2 separate regions of the Homo sapiens genome follow, and region 2 is linked to region 1. The links come from fine-mapping of genetic effects on gene expression. Tissue or cell type: fibroblasts. Region 1 holds a variant in brackets; the other region holds the start of a gene. All regions are shown on one strand. Distances are from middle to middle. Region 1 has its middle 55 kb from the start of LINC01060. Region 2 holds the start of LINC01060 (long intergenic non-protein coding RNA 1060).

Region 1 (10,175 bases):
TTTGACATTTAACAGACTAGTAGGCATTGATTTAGTACAATAAAGAAAGCCACAACCTACGAAGAAAACAAATGTGATTCACTCAGAGAATCTCAGAAAGTTTCCTAGCTAGGAGTCAGCAAATAAGCAACCATGGGGGACTGGGTGAGGCTTAAATTCAGAAATAAAGTGATTACGTGTGTTCTAATTGCAGGCACACAAGACCGTTCCCGTGGCTCCCAGAAGGCTGCGGTCAGACGTTATCTCCAAGGAGGAAATTCTCCTTTAGACACTGGGGTCAGGTGATGCCCAACAACAAAGGTCCGCTCTGTTAAGGGGACCACTGGCCAATACGCCATCCCATACGGACTCCCAATCATCTCCCAGTGCATCACACTTAGTCATGAATGCAGAGCCAAGGACCACTGGCCAATACACCCACTCCCTACGGACTCCCAGTCATCTCCCAGTGCATCACACTTAGTCATGAATGCAGAGCCAAGGACCACTGGCCAATACACCCACTCCCTACGGACTCCCAGTCATCTCCCAGTGCATCACACTTAGTCATGAATGCAGAGACAAGGACCACTGGCCAATACGCCCACTCCCTACGGACTCCCAGTCATCTCCCAGTGCATCACACTTAGTCATGAATGCAGAGGCAAGGACCACTGGCCAATACGCCCACTCCCTACGGACTCCCAGTCATCTCCCAGTGCATCACACTTAGTCATGAATGCAGAGGCAAGGATCAGGAGGCACTGGGGACAGAGTTTTCATGTGAGTGGAACAAAATCAGTCTGACAGATTAAAGGAAACACAAAAGAAGAGAGAGAGTGCAGAAACAGAAAAAGTTATATTCGGAACCCTATTTCTAAGTATCTTTGAAGATACAAGACCTACAGCAAGAAAAAGATAGCAAGGAGAAGCAGCTCTTTCGTAATGCATATATAGGTGGTAAAATTATAAACACAGCTAAGACATGATGACACTAAAGGCAGAAAAGTGTTTGACTCCTGGGGGTACTGGGGTAGGGGCATGAGGAAGAGTGTGGTGACTGGAGAGGGACACCTGGGAGACTGCTAGGTTTTGGTAAGACTTTATTTCTTTACCTGTGTGGTTGTTGCATATTATATGGCTTTATAACCACTTGTTAAATATACATTTACATTTTGCACATCTTTCTATATGTATGCTGTATGTCTCTTTCTCTCACACACACACACAGTGATAAAGGGCAAAAATGGAGAAATTGAAAGGGCTCTTGGAAAATACAACTCTGACAATACCCCACCCTCCTTCCAAAAAAAGAAAAGATTGAAAGTGGAAGATGGAAAGTCGAGGTGGGAAATGAGGAAGCGTATTTGCAGATGATATAAAGAAAACATTCTCCCAAAATCATCCACAGAACTTGAAATAGAAAGGAAAAGTCTACTTTTAATGAAAACAGGAGTGAGGTGAAATGCCAAACCTCAACACAGAGAAAAAGCCTGCCAGCCCAGGGCAAACTGAGCAGGGCTGCTTGTGGGGAGGAGCAGAGTACTGACACTGAGGCCGCGGACACCATAAAGCCCAATGTGAGAGGCCCGTCCTAGAGGGCTCGCCACAGTGGCACTGGAGGCACGGGCTGCTACTAATTTCCCCCGGTCCCGGGTCACAGTCTAGAAACAGAGGTAGAGTTAGACGTGGGCCACCAAACCCACCACAGCCAGATGACAGGCTGGGGCAGAGCAATGGCCGCTGGATACCAAATATGACTGTGAGGCTCTACCTTGTCCTAGCCAGGGACCTGGCCCTCCATGAAATGCTTCCCTCTACCTACAGGAAAGAGACGGTTCAGGAGAAACAAAACATAGTCCAAAATGAGGAATCAGAATTAATTATAAATGCCTTAAAATAATGCAAAATAAGCAGAGTTACACAAGCAGAAAATGCATGCCCGATCCAGAAAGTGCATCCGAAACTGTAAAATGTGGCCACTGAGAAGCTGCACCAAATATTTTACCACTATTAACAACAGGCAGGCGCAGTGGCTCACGCCTGTAATCCCAGCACTTTGGGAGGGCGAGGCGGCTGGATCATTTGAGGTCAGGAGTTCGAGACCACCCGGGCCAACATGGTGAAAACCCATCTCTACTAAAAATACAAAAATTAGCTGGGCGGTGGTGGCGCTCGCCTGTAATCCCAGCTACCTGGGAGGCAGAGGCGGGAGAGTTGCTTGAGCCTCAGAGGCAGAGGTTGCTGTAAGCTGAGATCACGTCACTGCACTCCAGTCTGGGTGACAGAGAGAGACCCTGTCTCAAAAAAAACACGAAAAACAAAAAACAAACAAAAAAAAACAACAAAAAACAACAACAACAAAAGAATGCAAAATAATGAAACAATCGCCACGCTGAGCCAGAGGCAAATGGCCAACCACCAGACCACAGGCAGGCTATGACGGGCTAGTCGCCCTCTGCCATCCTGCTAAGGCACTGCAGTCATGTGAGCAAGCCTGGGCGAGATTAGCCAGAGCCAGCCCAGACCATGGGAACTCTTCAGCAGATCCTTAGGTTAACAAACTGTTGCTGTTTGAAGTGACTAAATTTGGGGATAATTTCCTAATCAACAGAAGCTAACAGACACACTTGGAAATTACAGATTTGAAATAGATGTGGAATGTCTCCCTCATCACCTATGTTCCATTGCCCTTGGAACAGGGGGGCTGTGAATCAATATGTGGCTTGTAGCTTTGTGTCTAGAAATAGCATAAAAAATTGTTGGGAAATCAAGGCGGTGGCTTCTGATTATCCATGTGGCCCGCAAGCACCCTGACTCTTGTTTGTGGCAGCCACATAGGCCCTGGATAGGTGAAAGGGCAAAGGGAGCTGTGGGTGCCCCAGGACACCAGCTGTGTCTCCCGGCCTGTATCCTCCTTTAAAGCCCAGTAAATGTAGCATCAGATTAAAGCTGTCTGTGTCTTGCAAGTCTGATGGCCAGCTTGAATCTGTAATCACAAGGGCAGTGTGTAGCAGTATTCAATACTGAAAGAGCTGAGACCTGTGAAATTTTGCACCAAGAAAGTGCAACCCGGAAATTTTATACCAACTATTATTTCAATCAAGTATAAACGCAATACAAACTGATTTTTGAATGTTCAAAGATATGGGAACATTGTTTATATGGAACTGCTTGGAAAATCTAGCAAACAACAATCATCAGTGAACCAAATGTTGATAGGGTATGAAAAGTTGCAGCCAGGGCCTGGTGACGAGCATGGAACCTGCCTGATGGTAGGAGAACTCAGTGAAAGAGACAAGAACGGGAACAGAATGTCAGCACTACAAATGTTAAAACCATCGCTGTGATCTGACTACCACGGAGTGTTTTGTGTGGCATCACTGATTTTCTTCTCTTTAAAACACAGGGCAGAAAAAGCATAGAAGTAAGAAAAAGTAGCAGAAAAGAAAAAATAAGCGTGTGATTCACAATGAAGATATGCCAGTTATGAATTCTAGAGATTAAATAACAGAGCATCAATGTTCTTAAAACAAAAAGTAGGCCGGGCGCGGTGGCTCACGCCTGTAATCCCAGAACTTTGGGAGGCCGAGGTGGGCGGATCACGAGATCAGGAGATCAAGACCATGCTGGCTAACATGGTGAAAGCCCGTCTCTACTAAAAATAAAAAAAATTAGCCAGGCATGGTGGCGGGCGCCTGTAGTCCCAGCTACTCCGGAGGCTGAGGCAGGAAATGGCATGAACCTGGGAGGCAGAGCTCGCAGTGAGCCAGGATCGCGCCACTGCACTCCAGCCTGCGCGACACAGCAAGATTCCGTCTCAAAAAAAAAAAAAAAAAAAAAAAAAAAAGTAGAGCATGCATAAGGAAAGACACAGACACAGGAGCACAGCAGGGAAAATTACATCACCTCTATCAGGCTGTGACTGCTGAAGAGAGCAATAGTAAGTCATGATGTAAAAATGTAAATCACATAGTTTTCTCTAATTGACAGATAACAAACTTGGCACCTTAAAAATATAGAATGCTTTTTTTTTTGATTCCACAGATCATAAAAAAGACTATATTTCAGACCACAAAACTTCAGTAATTTCTAAAAAGCATTTTTAATTATTTGATTAAGATGCAGTGAAATTAAATAAACAATAAAACTCCAAAACACTAAAAAACATACAGTTTTTGGAAGTTTTCTTATATCATTAAGGGCCAAAGAGAAAAACGTTGAAGAATATTTGTAAAAGAACTGACCACATATGACAACATCTGTATGACCCAGGTAGATCTGCACTCAGAAGAAATTCTAGAGCCTTAAATCATCATATTAATAAAAACAAGAAAAAACTTTAATATATCAACAAAATATAGACAAAATATATAAAATAGACAGAAAATTAAGGCAGAACTTACTGACTAAAGCAAAATGGTAGTAGTAGTAGTATTTTTTAATTTAAGAGCTGTATCTTTAGCGAAGAATTTAATATGTAAACTACCTTATTCAAGAAAAAAAGAGAATGATAGTACATTAAGCAAGAAATAAGTAAAGGTCAATCACAGATAGAGACCCCTGCAATAGACCACTAAGACTACTTAATTTCATGCAAAGATCGAACAGAGGCTTTGCCTAATCTCCAGGCCGTGGGAGTCTCAACCTGAGAGAGGAAGGAGTCTCTTCTCCTGGACCTGATAGTCCAGGGGAATCTGTGGGTTGAAGGTTCTGTTCACATGTTCCTATCTCACATCTCAGAGCCCTTCTTTCCATTGAGTGCCCTCACTTTGTGTAGGACCCCTTTTAGGGCTGAGAATTTAGCCTATAGTGAGTTAAATCATGGTCTCCAAAAAGATATATCCATGTCCCAGTCCCCCAAAACTATGCCTGTGACCTTATTTAGGAAAATGTTATTTGCAGATATAATTAAGTACCTCAAGATGAGATCATCTTGGGTTATCCAGGTGGGCCCAACATTCAGTGACATACAGAAGAGAAGACACACAGAAGAAAAGACAGAGAGTATAAGTCCATGTGAATATCCAGGCAGAGATGAGTGTTGCAATCAAGAGTCCAAAGAAGAGAAGACAAGCGTATGTTCCAAGCACACTTACCCAGTTTCTTGTTCTAGGCAATTCTGTGTTGAGCTCCTCTGGGGCAGAACAAAAGAGTATTGAAAGTATTGTTGTCTCTGTGGACCAAAGCCTGTACTGACCACAAAACAAAGCCCTTCTTGGATTCACCCTCAGCCCACACTCAATCATGTGGGTACATGGCAAGAAGAGACATGAAAAGATAAAATGAAAGAAAAGGGGCCTCTTTGTCTCAAATCCCAGAGAGCTGAAATCATGGCCTTCCTTC[C/T]GGATCAGGCTGAATGGTGGCCCCCAGGGAGATGAGTCCGTGTCTTATTCCAGGAACCTCTAATTGAGACCTTATTTGGAAAAAGAGTCATCAAAGATATAATTAAGGCTTTGAAATGAGATCATCTTGGATTATCTGGATGGGCCTTAAATCCTTTGAAGACACACAGGAAAGAATGATGTGGTCAGTTTTAACATGTAGATTGTATTTTAATTCAAGTATAGTGAGGCTGTGAAAGGAATATAAAAATCTCAGGACCCCAAACTCACTATGCCAAAGGGAAAAGTGAAGCTCAGTAACTGCATCATGCAAAAACTGCCTTCCATTTTGTTCCTAAGTAGATAGCTGCAAAGACAGAAGGCCACATGTCTCCCCCGGTGGCCTCCTTCACAAATTGCTCACAAGGAAATTCCTCGTGGGCCCCAAGAGCTTTACCCTAAAACAGAACGCTGTTCTATTTCACCTTGACAATGTAAACTAACAGCTTATCTTCACCGGTACCTTGACAAAGACAGGCCTAGAGGGCATCCCTTGGCTCACCTGAGAGGAATGCATATTTGAGCACCTCCTCTATGTTTACTTTATCTTATGCAAAAATGCAGACGCACTGAGCACTATGCATAATTCACTGTTTCGCTACCCACTCCTTTCACATGTAAAATGTAGATTCAGTAAGTGCTAATCAAAGCCTCCAAAGACTAACCACTTTCCTGTTTTGTCTACCTTCTCTCTCTTTTTTTTATCCTCTTTCTTCATCTGCCCTCCCTTTTCCCTTTAAATCAGGAGTGTCCAATCTTTTGGCTTCCCTGGGCCACATTGGAAGTATTGTCTTGGGCCACACATAAAATACACTAACACTAACAAAGCTGATGAGCTAAAAACCAAACACACAAACCAAAAAATGGCAAAAAATAAAATCCCATCATTTTAAGTAAGTTTAGTAATTTGCTAATTTGTGTTGGGCCTCATTCAAAGCCATCCTGGGCTGCATGTGGCCCTTGGGCTGTGGGTTGGACTAACTTGCTTTAAATATTGAAGTCCTCAAACCCTGTTTGCATGGCCACACTGGTGATCTACCTTGCTTTATATATGAAGTTAAGTTTGTAAGTATTAGTGAATATGCCTAATAATTTGATTTATTTGTAGCATTTGCATCTAGAGAATGCTTTAAGTCTCAGTTTGTTAGCCAATGGTGTAGTCACTAACTGTATTTTTAAAATAAAAAATGCTGTTGGTAAATCGTGACTACTGACCTGGCACTAAAAATGTTTAAACTTACATATTTTTGTCCCAGGAAAATGGTGATACTTTTCTAATTATGGAACAGAGACATGTGTATCCATTTCCTGCTTGTTATAAAGACCTACAGAATGCTGGCAATAGATTGAAACTATCTTCAGGAACTCTTACTACTATTACTACATAAGTCCATGCCATTGGGTCTAGAACTGACCAGCGACTCCTATTCCAAGTGGAGGTTTCCCTGCAGTCACATCCCTATCCTGTCTTACAGCTCTCTGTTAAATGCCAATCTTTTTCTTTTGCAGGGAAGAGCGTGATTAAAGAGCTCTTGTCTCCATATTGGAAACTGGCCCTGATCACTGTGGCAGCACACTGAAGTATGTGATAAATAATTTATGAACCTCGGAGGTCTGCTGTGGGGAGATATTCACCTTTGCTCCATCCGTGCACCACACATCATGCGTCAGCGCCAACACGGGCACATGCAGTTCTGCCTCAAGGTGGGTAAAGCTACACGTTCAACAAACCCGTGAGTAGAAGTGCACCAGGGGAGCTCTGCTGCCGCAACGAGACCACTTCTGGTAATTTGGGAGCAAACTGCTTTGACCAGGAACGTTGGGAGATTATACATAGAAAAGAGGTGTTGGAATTCCTTTTTATAAATGATAAATATTACCACAAAAGGATAAAAATGGAAGATGGTTTTGAATGTCGGCAAAACTGCCCGAGAACTTTAATTAGGACAATGTCGCCACAACGACTGCTTTCAAAACCATAACTTTCAGAATGCTCTGGGCACCACATGTGCCACATGAGACTTGTTAAGGCAATTTCCATTGTAACAAACAGCCTCAAAAAAAATAAAATAAAATAAGTTGCACATGCATCAAATTTGCTTTTAAAATTATACAGGATTTAAAAGAATTTTATGGCCAGATATATTGAGCAGAGCAAAAACTTTTAACAGAATACAGAGAATAAACAGAAACTATTTATTTATACATTATTCACAAATATTCCAAGTTCTTGTTTATATCATTTGCCTTTCATCAAAAGATAAAATAATAACACAGTGTTAACAGAAAAACTTCAGTAGAATTAAACTTTTGGGTTTTTTGAGACGGGTTTTGCTTTTGTTGCCCAGGCTGGAGTGTAGTGGCACGATATCTGCTCACTGCAACCTCCACCTCCCGGATTCAAGCGATTCTCCTGCCTCAGCCTCCCAAGTAGCTGGGATTACAGGCACGCACCACCACGCCTGGCTAATTTTTGTATTTTTAGTAGAGATGGAGTTTCACCATGTTGGTCAGGCTGGTCTCGAACTCCTGACCTCAGGTGATCTGCCCTCCTCAGACTCCCAAAGTGCTGGGATTACAGGCGTGAGCCACCGCACCCGGCCAGCTGAATTAAATTTAAAGGAGTTTACTTGAGCAATGAATGATGCGTGAATCAGCTCCCAGAATCGCAGCAGATTCAGAGAGACTCCAGCACAGCCACATCGTGGAAGAAAATTTGTAGACAAAAAAAGGAAAAAGATGTACAGAAATCGGAAGTGAGTTACACAAACAACTGGACTGGTTACAAGTTTGCCTTACTCGAACACAGTTTGAACACGCAGCAGTGTGTGAGTGGCTGAAGTATGGCTGCTGGACTGGCGATTGTTCCACGTACATACTCCTAAATTAGGTTTTCAATCTTGTTGTCCTATTAAGTTAGGTTATGGTTCCTCTACAAGGACTCAAGTATAGAAGTATAGAGTCCTTCCCAGGCCATATTTAGTTCGCTTTAACAATAGATAATTCTTTTTTACAATTTGAAGTGGCTGTGTTCTTAAATTATGAACTATTCCTTACATTTCTTTATATTAGAAATTCCTAGCCTTTAAAGTAACAAACAATACCTTTAATTTATTTTCATTAGTGCTTTCTGGCCAACAATACTGTAGTATTTATTAGAAACTCATAAATTAATTTCATCATAAAGAATTATTTGATAATGCTTACTCGATACAATGTGATTTTACATATAACTACACATTAAAATTGTAAGTGCCTTAACATATATAATATTATAAAAACATAGTTATTAAGAAATGTCCAAAAGCACATTGAAAAATGTGGGGCATTTATGATTTTTTTTCAAAGTAAGATTCACTTCCATAATTGTAAGAAAATCAGGCATGTCTATTTAGGTATTTGCTTATGATGTGAGCAAACCTTTATTGTGACAATCATGGGATAAGTAAAAAGAAGTAAGACACAAATCATCTTAAAGGTGTTCTATATATATATGTGTGTGTGTGTGTGTGTGTGTGTGTATATATATATATATATATTTTTTTTTAAGACAAAATCTCGCTCTGTCACCCAGGCTGGAGTGCAGTGGCGCGATCTCGGCTTACTGCAACCTCCTGGTGAGCTTTTCTCCTGCCTCAACCTCTCGAGTAGCTGGGACTACAGGCACCCGCTACCACGCCGGGTAATTTTTTGTATTTTTAGTAGAGACGGGGTTTCATCGTGTTAACCAGGATGGTCTTGAACTCCTGACCTCGTGATCCACCCACCTCAGCCTCCCAAAGTGCTGGGATTACAGGTGTGAGCCACTGCGCCCAGCCCTGTGCACAATACATTAACAGACAGATTGTAAATAATATTATAAAGTGATAAGATGACAAAACAAAACTACAGATAAAATTCTACAGGAGCAGCCAGTAGAGAGTGATTGATCCTAACTGAAGTTTAGGAGAGACTTTATTGTAAAAACATCACTTTAGGGAGCTTTTGACAAGTCAGTCGAGCTTCATACACAGAGAAACTGGGGAAAGGGGAGGGAATAGCATAGAGATGAAAAATAAGGCGTGTTTTAGTTACTACAAATATAGAATTTGAGTTAATGCATACTGTAAAATTTGCACACTACCTACCTAATGTACACAAGTAGCCGTAACTGAATAAAAGGGCTAAAGAAAGAAATAGTGGTAAAATAAAAGTATTAACTTATGTCAACAGTGGGTTTTTTTTTCCTATTTTATTTGTTTATTCCTGGATGGATTTAGTGGATTCCTCTCTATGTCCTTTTACTCTAACCACATCGATGCATACCTGACTGATTTGTAAATGCTAGCATGTACATTTTCTGCACGAGGGCTTTCTCTGACTCTGAAACCTCCTTGGCTACTTTTTCTAGGCCTGAAATGCTGGAAAGTGATCACTCATAGGTACAGCCACGACCAATGGCTGATGGAAATTGGTGTGTAAATATTACAATTACCTTGGCCCACGGGTGGGATTACTCAGGTACACATTTTACCCTGGCTTCTCGGTTTCCGCAGTAGGATTAAGCTCCAGTTGTCCACAGTGATAACGCCCTTGAAAATAAAGCCTTTTTTGTCATTATTTTCTTCCCTATCTCACTTCCTATTCTTTTCGGATCATCTACAAAATAAACCCCTCGCACTTGAATGGCTATTTTGGTCTGGGTCCCAAATTGAAATGTACATTGGGATAAAAGTACATGAAATAAAATTAAATTACACAAGCAAGAAATAAATTTTATTTATTGTAAGCCAGTGAAACTTTGAGGTTGTTTGCTGGGAAGAATAACAGGAT
Region 2 (10,175 bases), 56 kb before region 1:
TTTTGGTATCAGGGTAAATCTGGTCTCGTAGATTGAGTTTGGCAGTACTCCCTCCACTTTGCTTTTTATTAAGAGTTTGAGAAAGATTTGTTTTAATTGTTCTTTAAATGTTTGCTACAATTATCCAGTGAAGTCATCTAGCCCTTAGCTTTTCTTTGCTGGGGGGTTATTACAGAGTTAATCTCCTTACTGTAAGTCTCTTGAGATATTCTGATTCTTCGTGATTCAATCTTGGCCATTTGTGTGTTTCTAGGAATTTGTCCATCTCACCTAAGATGTTCAGTTTGTTGGTATACAATTGTTCACAGTACTCTTTTACAATCCTTTTTATTTCTGCAAAATTGGTAGTAATGTCTCTTCTTTCACTTCTGATTTTCAGTTGAGTCTTCTTTCTTCCTAAATCATTCTAGCAAAGATTTCTCAATTTTGCTAACCTTTTTAAAGAACCAATTCTTTGTGTAAAAAGTTTAATATTTATATTAGCTTTACTATTTTGTTTTTATTCAAATTTATTAGCTTGATAATACATTTGGGTATTAAAATTAAAAGATACGGCTGGGTGCAGTGGCCTATGGCTATAATCCCAGCACTTTGGGAGGCTGAGGTGGGCAGATCGTCTGAGGTCAGGAGTTCGAGACCAGCCTGGCCAATGTGGCAAAACCCTGTCACTACTAAAAATCCAAAAAAAAAAAAAAAAAAAAAAAAGCTGGATATGGTGGCTCATGCCTGCAGCCCCAGCTACTCGGGAAGCTGAGGCAGGAGAATCGCTTGAACCTGGGAGGCGGAGGTTGCAGTGAGCCGAGATTGCACCACAGCATTCCAGCCTGGGTGCCAGAGCGAGACTCTGTCTCAAAAAATACGTGTGTGTGTATGTATATATAATACAACTAATCACACACTTAGTAAATGGCACACCCAGGATTAAACACAAGCTTTCCTGACATAAGTGCCATGATCTGCTCACCCAACATATTGTATTGTGTCTGGAATTTATTCCTTCTGGTGGGTTCTTGGTCTGGCTGACTTCAAGAATGAAGCCACCGACTCTCGCCACGAACGTTACAGCTCATAAAGGTAGTGCAGACCCAAAGAGTGAGAAGCACCCACGACTTATTGTGAAAAGTGAAAGAAAGCTTTCATAGGGAAAGGTACCCAAACCGGTTGCTACTGTTGGCTCTGGTGGCCAGCTTTTATTCCCTTATTTGGCCCCACCCACGTCCTGCTGATTGGCCCATTTTACAGAGCGGTGATTGGTCCATTTTACAGAGCACTGATTGGTCCATTTTACAGAGTGCTGATTGGTCCGTTTTTACAGAGTGCTGATTGGTGCATTTACAAACCTTTAGCTAGACACAGAGTGCTGATTGGTGCGTTTATAATCCTCCAGCTAGACAGAAAAGTTCTCCAAGTCCCCACATGAGTCAGAAGCCCGCCTGGCTTCACCTCTCAGTATGTAGCTTTCTAACTCCACTTTTAAAACCTTAAATGTCATATTTAATATAACTGATGGTACGGTAAAAGATGAGGTTGTTTAAAAAGTAAAATCATCACTCAGTGAACATGCTTACTTTTAACACGTAACTGAGACAACAGAGAATTATGAAACTACCCTGATATGTAGATCCCAGGGAAGAGGAGGGACCAACAACTTAGAAAGCAGGTCAGTAAAAATGTTGTTCCTAAAGACAGACTAAGTCTATACTAATGTGTACACAGGGGGATGGGAGAGGTTGATAGGGCTGTGTTTGCCTCTGCCATTTTGGGGCTCCATCCCCAGTACCATTTTTCTTAGCAATAGTGGACTTATTCCTGTGAAATGTCAATTTGTTCTACAGAGCAATTTCTCTCCAAAACTTTATAGACAACATTTTCCAGGATAAAATGAATAGTTATAGAATAAGTATTATAAGGCCAAATCTGTAAAACGCCTCTTAAAAATCAGGCAAGCCTCCATCTATATGTGTATGTGCCAGACCTGTCATTTCTTTCAGTATTTGTCAAAGGATTTCCAGACTATTAGCATAGTTGGCATTTGTTTAATTAACACTGGAGGTTGTAAATCAAAGTGAAGACTTAAATGTATTCTGTGAGACTCATGTTTCTCACTGCTAAGAATAATTGCACTTTCTAAAGAACTGAAAATTGGCAACTAAGAGTACAAATTTGGATAATTTCACAATAGTTGTTATGCCTATTATCTTCTTCTAAAAAATACATAAAATATTTTATTATCTACAATTAGTTGACACAAATTTTATAGAATTGGGAATATTGATCTTTGTATCTTAAATTTTACATATTTGGTTTATATTCATATTACCCAGCAATTATATTTAAAAGCAGAACTTAATCCTCACTCATCAAATCATATAATCATTTAGTTAGGAGGAAGATTAGGGGTTTTCTTATTCTGCTTTGGAGAGATCTACCCACTGTTTTAATATAATCTTATTTAAAAGGCTCTTCAGTAACCAAAAATTTGTAGCCTCTTTTTTTTTTCTTTCCAGTGCTAAGTCATTTTAAGGTCAGTTTTGTACCTTTATCAGATGGGCATTCTTTCTTTCTATTATTTAATAACATGTTCTCTAGTGTTTTTGTGTTTGTTTTTTTTTGAGACAGAGTCTCACCGTGTCGCCTAGGATGGAGTGCAGTGGAGTGATCTCTGGTCACTGCAAGCTCCGCCTCCGGGCTTCAAGCGATTCTCCTGCCTCAGCCTCCCAAGTAGCTGGGACTACAGGCGCCCGCCACCATGCCCAGCTAATTTTTTGTATTTTTAGTAGAGATGGGGTTTCACTATGTTGGCCAGGCTGGTCTCGATCTCATGACCTCGTGATCCACCCGCCTCGGCTTCCCAAAGTGCTGGGATTACAGGTGTGAGCCACCGCACCTAGCCCGTGTTCTCTAGTTTGTGGAGATTTCATAAATTTATCAGCGTATCCAGTTTCGAAGTCTTTGTGCTGCTCTGTGCCAGCAGGGGACGCCAGTGAACCTGATCCAGGGATATCATTCAATCCCAGAGCCTGGCGTGAAACAGCGCTGGAACGTGTGAGGGAAACGAGCTTGCTCAAAGATCACCATCCCTTAGATCTGTTCTTTCTTTGGCTTCGGTGGGACAAGTCACGGGACCACCATTCTCCCAATCATCAAGCTTGGGTTCAGCGTCCTCTTTTCTCCTTTGGACTCATATGTCATCGGCTCTAATTTACCAGATATTGCCTTCCTCCTAGCTGTTCACATTGCCATTGTCTTCACCCGCCCCTGCTTGGCACATGGCAGTAAACACTGAACACATCTCCTTTCTTTGGCTTATGTCTCTAATCAAGTCTTCACGCTTCTTAGTGTGGATTCTTCCTTACTCTCTATTTTTGCCTTTATTGGTTGATTGATCTTATTGTTCTTTGCGAGCCACAATATGTTTACATTTGAAAATTAATTACCAACTTGAAAATTATGAGTTTTGCATGAAATTCTAGATTTTTAGGTTCTTAAAATGTAACCAAGTACCCCATTTTTCTTTTTCTTTTTTCTTTTGTTTTTTAAGATGGAGTTTTGCTCTTGTTGCCCAGGCTGGAGCACAGTGGCACGATCTCAGCTCACTGCAACCTCCACCTCCCGGGTTCAAGCGATTCTCCTGCCTCAGCCTCCCGAGTAGTTGGGATTACAGGCGCCTGCTGCCACACCCAGCTAATTTTTGTATTTTTAGTAGAGACAGGGTTTCACCATGTTGGCCAGCCTGCTCTCGAACTCCTGACCTCATGATCCGTCGGCCTTGGCCTCCCGAAGTGCTGGGATTACAGGCGTGAGCCACCGCCCCGGCCCCCAGTTCTCCCTATTTTTCTACGGGTGGTTTAATTATATTTTTCCCTCTCACTCTGTTTTCTCCTTTCCCTGGCTCTCTGCTTTCTGCTTAGCTCTGCTGAAATGCAAATATAATCTCTCACCTCTCCCTCACAGGACATTGCCTACACAGCAAGTTCCTCTAACTTCGTGCTCCAAGACAGGTCTCTCCTCCAGAGCTGACGGTGGATTTACAGACCAAAGCATGTCCCCATGGAACTCTCACCTCCAGGGGCGTGCCTCGGAACTGCCATCCTCCAGGGGTGACCTAGGAACTCATACGCACCAGGACAGCACATCGAAAGCATGACCACTTGGCTACTTTTACAACTGAACTCTGCACAGGAAGGTGCCAACTCAACTGCCTGGTAGGTAACTGACCAGAAGCAGTGGGACCCCTGCCCTTGCTCATGTCCTCCCTTACCCTATGAAAATGCCCACTTTTTGCAACAGAGGAGAAGCGGCACATTCAAAGGCGGGATGCTTTGTGCCCCTTCCCCCAAGCTAACTTCGGAATAAATTCACTTATTTTGGATCAGATTTCCCTCGTTAACTGAACTGTACGTGCAGTGAGCAAGTAACCTGCATTTCAGTTACAAATTACAGAAGACCTGGCCACTCAGAGTAGATAGCCTCATCTAGTTTCAGATGAGAGAGAGCAATGAAAGTTTCTGCTTTTTTAAAAAACAAACAAACAAAAAAAACCTGGCTTGTCTTGAAACTAGGAGAATCAGGTATTCTACCCCTTTTTGGCATGACTTAAACTTACTACCAGTGTAAAGCCTTAACTCGTTCTCAGATACAAACAAGCTCTTAAGAGCAAAGGCTGCCTGAGCAGCTTATTGCACGGAGGAAGCAGGAGAAGAGAAAAGATTATGTGAATATCATGCAAGTAGTAATGAAGAATAAAAACAGGAAAGTATTAATCGAAGATGTGATTTTCCCTATGTAATCAAGAATTTTGTCATGCTTACTCCATGAGGCAGGTAAGTACGGAGGAAGGTAACAGTGACCAGAAGATTCCCTTTAGTAAACATCTCCTCAGGGATCTGTGAAGTCAGGAATCTCAGCTCCTGTTACAAATCGAAGGCCATTAATTACCATGGTGTCTGAAGTTGTCAATAGCCCACCCCTTTAATTCCCACATAATCACTTCAATTATTGTGCTCATTGTATGTAGTTATTGCTTGTCTCCTCCCACAGAATGTAAGACCCATGACAGAAGAGACCATATCCATCTTTTTAGAAAAGTCCTTGACCTGTAATACTCATTCAAAAATGGTTATGGAATTGATGAATTCTACAACCTGAAAAAAAAGTTAATACTCTGTCTTCTGAAAAACAAAAACAATACAAAACAAGTGCATTATCTTCAATGGCCTGCAGTATAATAATATTAAAAACTGTAGCCTTATTTTCAAGGTCTTGAGGACCTGAATGATCTGTTCCAAATCTAGTATCCTCTGTTTCTTTCCAAATTCTTCTGTCTAGACATCCTGTGCTCCAGCCACAGAAAGTACTTTCATTCCCTCGGCTTATGCTTTTTTTTTTTTTTTCTTTTGAGAGGGAGTCAGTCTCTGTCGCCCAGGCTGGAGTGCAGTGGCGCGATCTCGGCTCACTGCAACCTCCACCTCCCAGGTTCAAGCGATTCTCCTGCCTCAGCCTCCCAAGTAGCTGGGACTACAAGCACACGCCACCACGCCCGGCTAATTTTTTGTATTTTTAGTAGAGACGGGGTTTCACCGTGTTAGCCAGGATGGTCTCGAACTCCTGACCTCGGGATCCACCCGCCTTGGCTTCCCAAAGTGCTGGGATTACAGGAGTGAGCCACCGTGCCTGGCCCAGGTTATTCTTTTAAACTGTTCAGACCATCTCACATTGCATCCTTCGCTCATGCACTGTTTTGCTCAATCTTTACCTTTTCTCTTCCACATCATCTTACAAGAACCACCCAGGTGGTATGTTCTCACTGACGTTTCCACCATTCCCCTTAGAATGAACCTCTCTCCTCTGATTTCCTGTGGTATATCACAACATGCATTTTAATCTTTTCCACACTTACTGTGTTTTATTACTCTCTCCTCCATCTAACTGGAAACTCATTGCGAAGAGAGAGATTTGGATATCCACCTTCCTGTTGACTTGCCCAGATGTCTATCACGGTGCCTTCCGTATCCCAGGAGGACGTTGAACATTGGCAGGCATGCCTAGCTGAAAGCCGATGCACCGAGGCCTGCTCCATGCTAAGGCTGTAATTCTTCACCCCAAGAATCTTCATTCTGGTCTTCAAGTATTCAAGGTAAACAGTCAGTTGTAGGCAATAATGTTATGTGACTTCTTCTGTAATTCCTTCTTCTTTTGTATCTATTTTTGCCTGGGTGGGGGTGGGAGAAAGGGGTGTGAGAAACTCAAGTCCTGATGTCATGGTTTGCTCTTCCTTTTCAACATTCATAGACCCCAGGTCCCAGTGCCCAAAGAGTCTCTTTCTTTTATCTACTAATTATTAACTGGGGATGCAAAGCAGAATCTCCAGCTTGAGGCACCCAAGGTGTCTCCTGTCAGAGCTCCATTTCAATAGTACATGTTATGGTTTGAATGTGTCTCCAAAAGTTTATGTGTTGAACACAGGAGTAAATTCATTATGGGGTGAGTGGGTTTGTTATAAAAGTGAGTTCAGCCTCCTCTTGCTGTGTGTCTTATGTGCTTTCTTGCACTGCCACCTGGCACCGTGGAAGAATGCAGTGAGAAGCCCCTCACCAGATGCTGGCCCCTAAATCCTGACCTTCTCAGCCTTCAGAACTGTGAGGAAGCAAATTTCTGTTTATTATAAATTACCCAGTCTGTGGCATTCTGATATAGCAGCGAGAAACAAAGACAGCACTCCTCTGTCTGAGCGTCCACACTCTCCTCCCTGAATCCTGATGAGCATATTGTCTGTCCTCCCTCAGGCACAAGTGAAGCAGCCTACTCTGCGACACAATGGCTCCTGGCCCTTTGGCATTAGGGAGGGAAACACGGAGCAGGGAACCCCTGAGTGTGCTGCTTCACAATGCACGATCCCCAGGTGCTGGGAAGGGCTGACAAGTAAGATCAGAGGGACAAATGAGAACATGGGGACAAGTTGTGAGATGAGGGACCTGTGGCTCTGGAATTGTATTTCTGGGAAACTGCAAGGAAGCTGTGTGTGTGTGTGTGTGTGTGTGTGTCTGTGTGTGTGTGTGTGTGTGTCTGTGTGTGTGCAAGTATTTGAAAGAAACTAAAAATAGAGAAATTCAATCATACTAGTATCTCCAACTGCTTCTGAGTCTGTGACTAGACCAATGATAATAAATGATAAAGAACTACCATGCATTTATTTATTCAAGAAACATTTACTGAATACCTGCCCTCGTTCAAGTAAAAGACTTAATGGTAGGAAAGTCATATGTTAAATAAATTCAATTTTTGTTACAAAGAAATACAAGACTGCCATTAGAGAATACACAGGGGACCTGATATGTCTGCTCTGTGGGGGAAGGTTCTCCCTAAATGTAAAGTTTAAGATGAAACCCGAGGGATAAGTAGCTGTTATGAGAGGGAGGATTAGAGGAACATTACAGTGTAGGGGAAATCTTTGTATCAAGACACATTTTGAGGCCGGGCAAGGTGGCACATGCCTATAATCCCAGCACTTTGGGAGGCTGAGGCGGGTGGATCACCTAAGGTCAGGAGTTCGTAACCAGCCTGACTAACATGGTGAAACCCCATCTCCACTAAATACAAAAAAATTAGCTGGGCGTGGTGGTGCATGCCTGTAATCTGAGCTACTTGGGAGGCTGAGACAGGAGAATCCCTTGTACCTAGGAGGCAGAGGTTGCAGTGAGCCGAGATGGCGCCATTGCACTCCAGCCTGGGCAACAAGAGCAAAACTCCCTCTCAAAAAAAAAAAAAGAAAAAGAAACATTTTGATCAACCACTAGAATTGTATTGTGGTTGGAGCAGAAAGTAAGAAGAGTGATAGGGCTACTGAGGTGGGTAGGACTGGAGCATGGAAGCTGTTCTGGAATGGACTTGGTCTGCATCCTTGAGGACATGGGGGCCAATAGAGATGCTTAGCAGGGAAATGACAGGTGCAGGCTTGCATTTTTAAAGCTAAATCACTATAGCAAGGCAAGGGAGGCAAGAGGACAAAACTAAAATTATGTTTCAGAAGTTGAATAGCAACACCATGGCAGTGTGTGTGAACTGCAATGCCATTCAAGCCTATTTGCTTTACTATATTGTAAGTTATGTGTGTCCTTATATATATCAGATTAACAGTATGCTTGCTTGCTTGGCTGCAGTGCTAACCTCTGAAAACATGTATTCAGCCTGCATCCATAATATGGTAGTGGCAAGGTATTAACAGAACCAGGTATAGGTGAAATGTTTTCTGAATTTTCCTCTTGTTTCCTCTCAAGATTGTGATCCAGCTTCCCTCATCTAATTTATTTGCTCCACTCATTCATATGGATGAGAAATCTTTATTTATTTTTTAAGCCTATACATGGCTGATTATTTGTAAACTTAAAGAAACTGTCCCAGAAACTCTTCTGCTCAGTGTAAGGGTCAGATAACAGCTATGAAAACATTACTGACTGCAAAAAAAGTACATGTTTCCTGCCCAAGAGAAAGAGCATAGTGGCCCCAATTCAATCTCCTAATACAGCTATTAGAAAAAGAAGAATGAGTTTTCTGCTCAGAAAATATTCTTTCTTCTCAATAGCTCACTCCATGGCTAACTGTCCACTTTGTACAGCAAAAGTTAGTTCTGTCCAAGTATTTCAATTTGGCAGAACAGACTTTAAGGCCAAAATAATTTAGTAAAAAATTCACTAATCTTCCATTTCATGGCAGGGAATATTGAAGATCATTTGATAAAAAGAAACATTATAAACGTTAGGTAACAACTATCAGGAATTGAACTGTGTGATTTGTTAAGGGAATTCACATATGCCTTATTTCTTCTTATAAACTGAAATTCAACCACATCTCAGACTTAGAAAAATAGAATTTTAAAGATTATAAGATTTATAATAAATAGAAATTTCAGAATAGGAAATACAGAATCTTGAGATTGAAACAAATGACCACTAGTCCAACACCATCTCATACTTCAATCTTCTCAAGGGCATTCTAATCAATTGGTAGTTTTTCCTGCGTTTAAGGATTTGAAGTGTCAGAGGTCTCAATAGTTTCAGAAAAGGACTTCTAGAGAGAGCTGCTATCTCTTCAGTTACCCCCGAGATCAAGCGAATCGAGCGTACTTCCTCTGGACCTAACAGTCTCATGGCACACCCCCAGCTCTCCACCTGGGCCACACTGGACACGGCAGTTACTTCTCGTTTCATCCTAGCTGTGCTCCTGCGCATGAAAACTTCATCTGCTCCCTGCAGCTTCCTTGATTTTGCCAGGCCTGACTTTTAACGCTTACTGTATAAGCAATTAACAGGATTTGAAAAGTCAATGGGAAACAGATCTTCAAGAGCATTCTCTGAATACCAGCACCCCGTGAAGCGGTTTTAAAATGTGCAGCATCGCCCTAGAGATACTCTGACCCCAGTCAATTATTAGGGGGATTATGAGAGTCCAAACAGCATTTATCAAACTGACAGAAAAAAACAAAATCCCAAACTAGTACATACCTTTTGTAGCAAGTTATTTTAGTAGAAGAAGTTTTGCTTTTGAAAATATGGATGAAACTACAGGTTCATTTCTCTGCTTAGTCAGAATATGGAATAATAATGAAGGGGCCACTTTTTACAGAAGCTTTCCAATAGCCTCACTTCCTACTGCTCCTCCTTTTCACCCTGAGTCCTAAACTAACTCCAAAGATAAATTCCCAGCCCTGGGCAAGTAGTCTCCCAGAGGGTAGCACTGTTACAAGAAGATAGAACATATCATAGGTTCTTCCTCATAGCGTGGCCCTCGGGGACACCTGATGTGTGCCCATAGTGTTGATTAAAAATTCCCCTTCCATCCTATAGCACCCTTAGCCTTGGGTTATTTCAAATTAGACCTGCTCTTTTCCCAGTTGAAAATGGAGTACCACCTGTAGACGCTTTTTTCTCTTGTTAGCATGGTATAATGATTTAATGAGAATCGCTGGGTTACAAATGCACAGATGACTTTCCTTTTATTCCTTTTTTCTATTTGATAAAATTATCTCAACAGAACGACACTAACACTTTTATTTCCTTTGCGGGGAAAAGCGTGTCCTTCTACTGATCAGAATAGCTAACTTCAACTTTCCTTTGTCATCGTCCTGGTATCTCTTTAAGCTATGACAATCCAGTACATACCTGATACCCTCAGTAATT

Evidence for each region.
Region 2: it holds the start of LINC01060, and the variant in region 1 is fine-mapped to the expression of LINC01060 in fibroblasts (GTEx, PIP above 0.99).

What each region holds. Positions count from the first base shown.
Region 1 is chr4:188,395,737-188,405,911 of GRCh38, reverse strand. No RefSeq gene overlaps it. Among named protein-coding and RNA genes, the nearest start is that of LINC01060, 55 kb to the left of the region's middle. RefSeq lists enhancers at 1-1,061, 5,589-6,340. The variant C/T (reference allele first, on the strand shown) is at 5,326.
Region 2 is chr4:188,451,399-188,461,573 of GRCh38, reverse strand. It overlaps LINC01060 (long intergenic non-protein coding RNA 1060), which reads right to left and starts at 5,996. Exons shown (of 5, transcript NR_033869.1): 1 at 5,900-5,996; 2 at 4,812-4,910. It overlaps LOC105377609 (a long non-coding RNA gene), which reads left to right. Exons shown (of 4, transcript XR_001741960.2): 2 at 3,955-4,205; 3 at 5,948-6,136.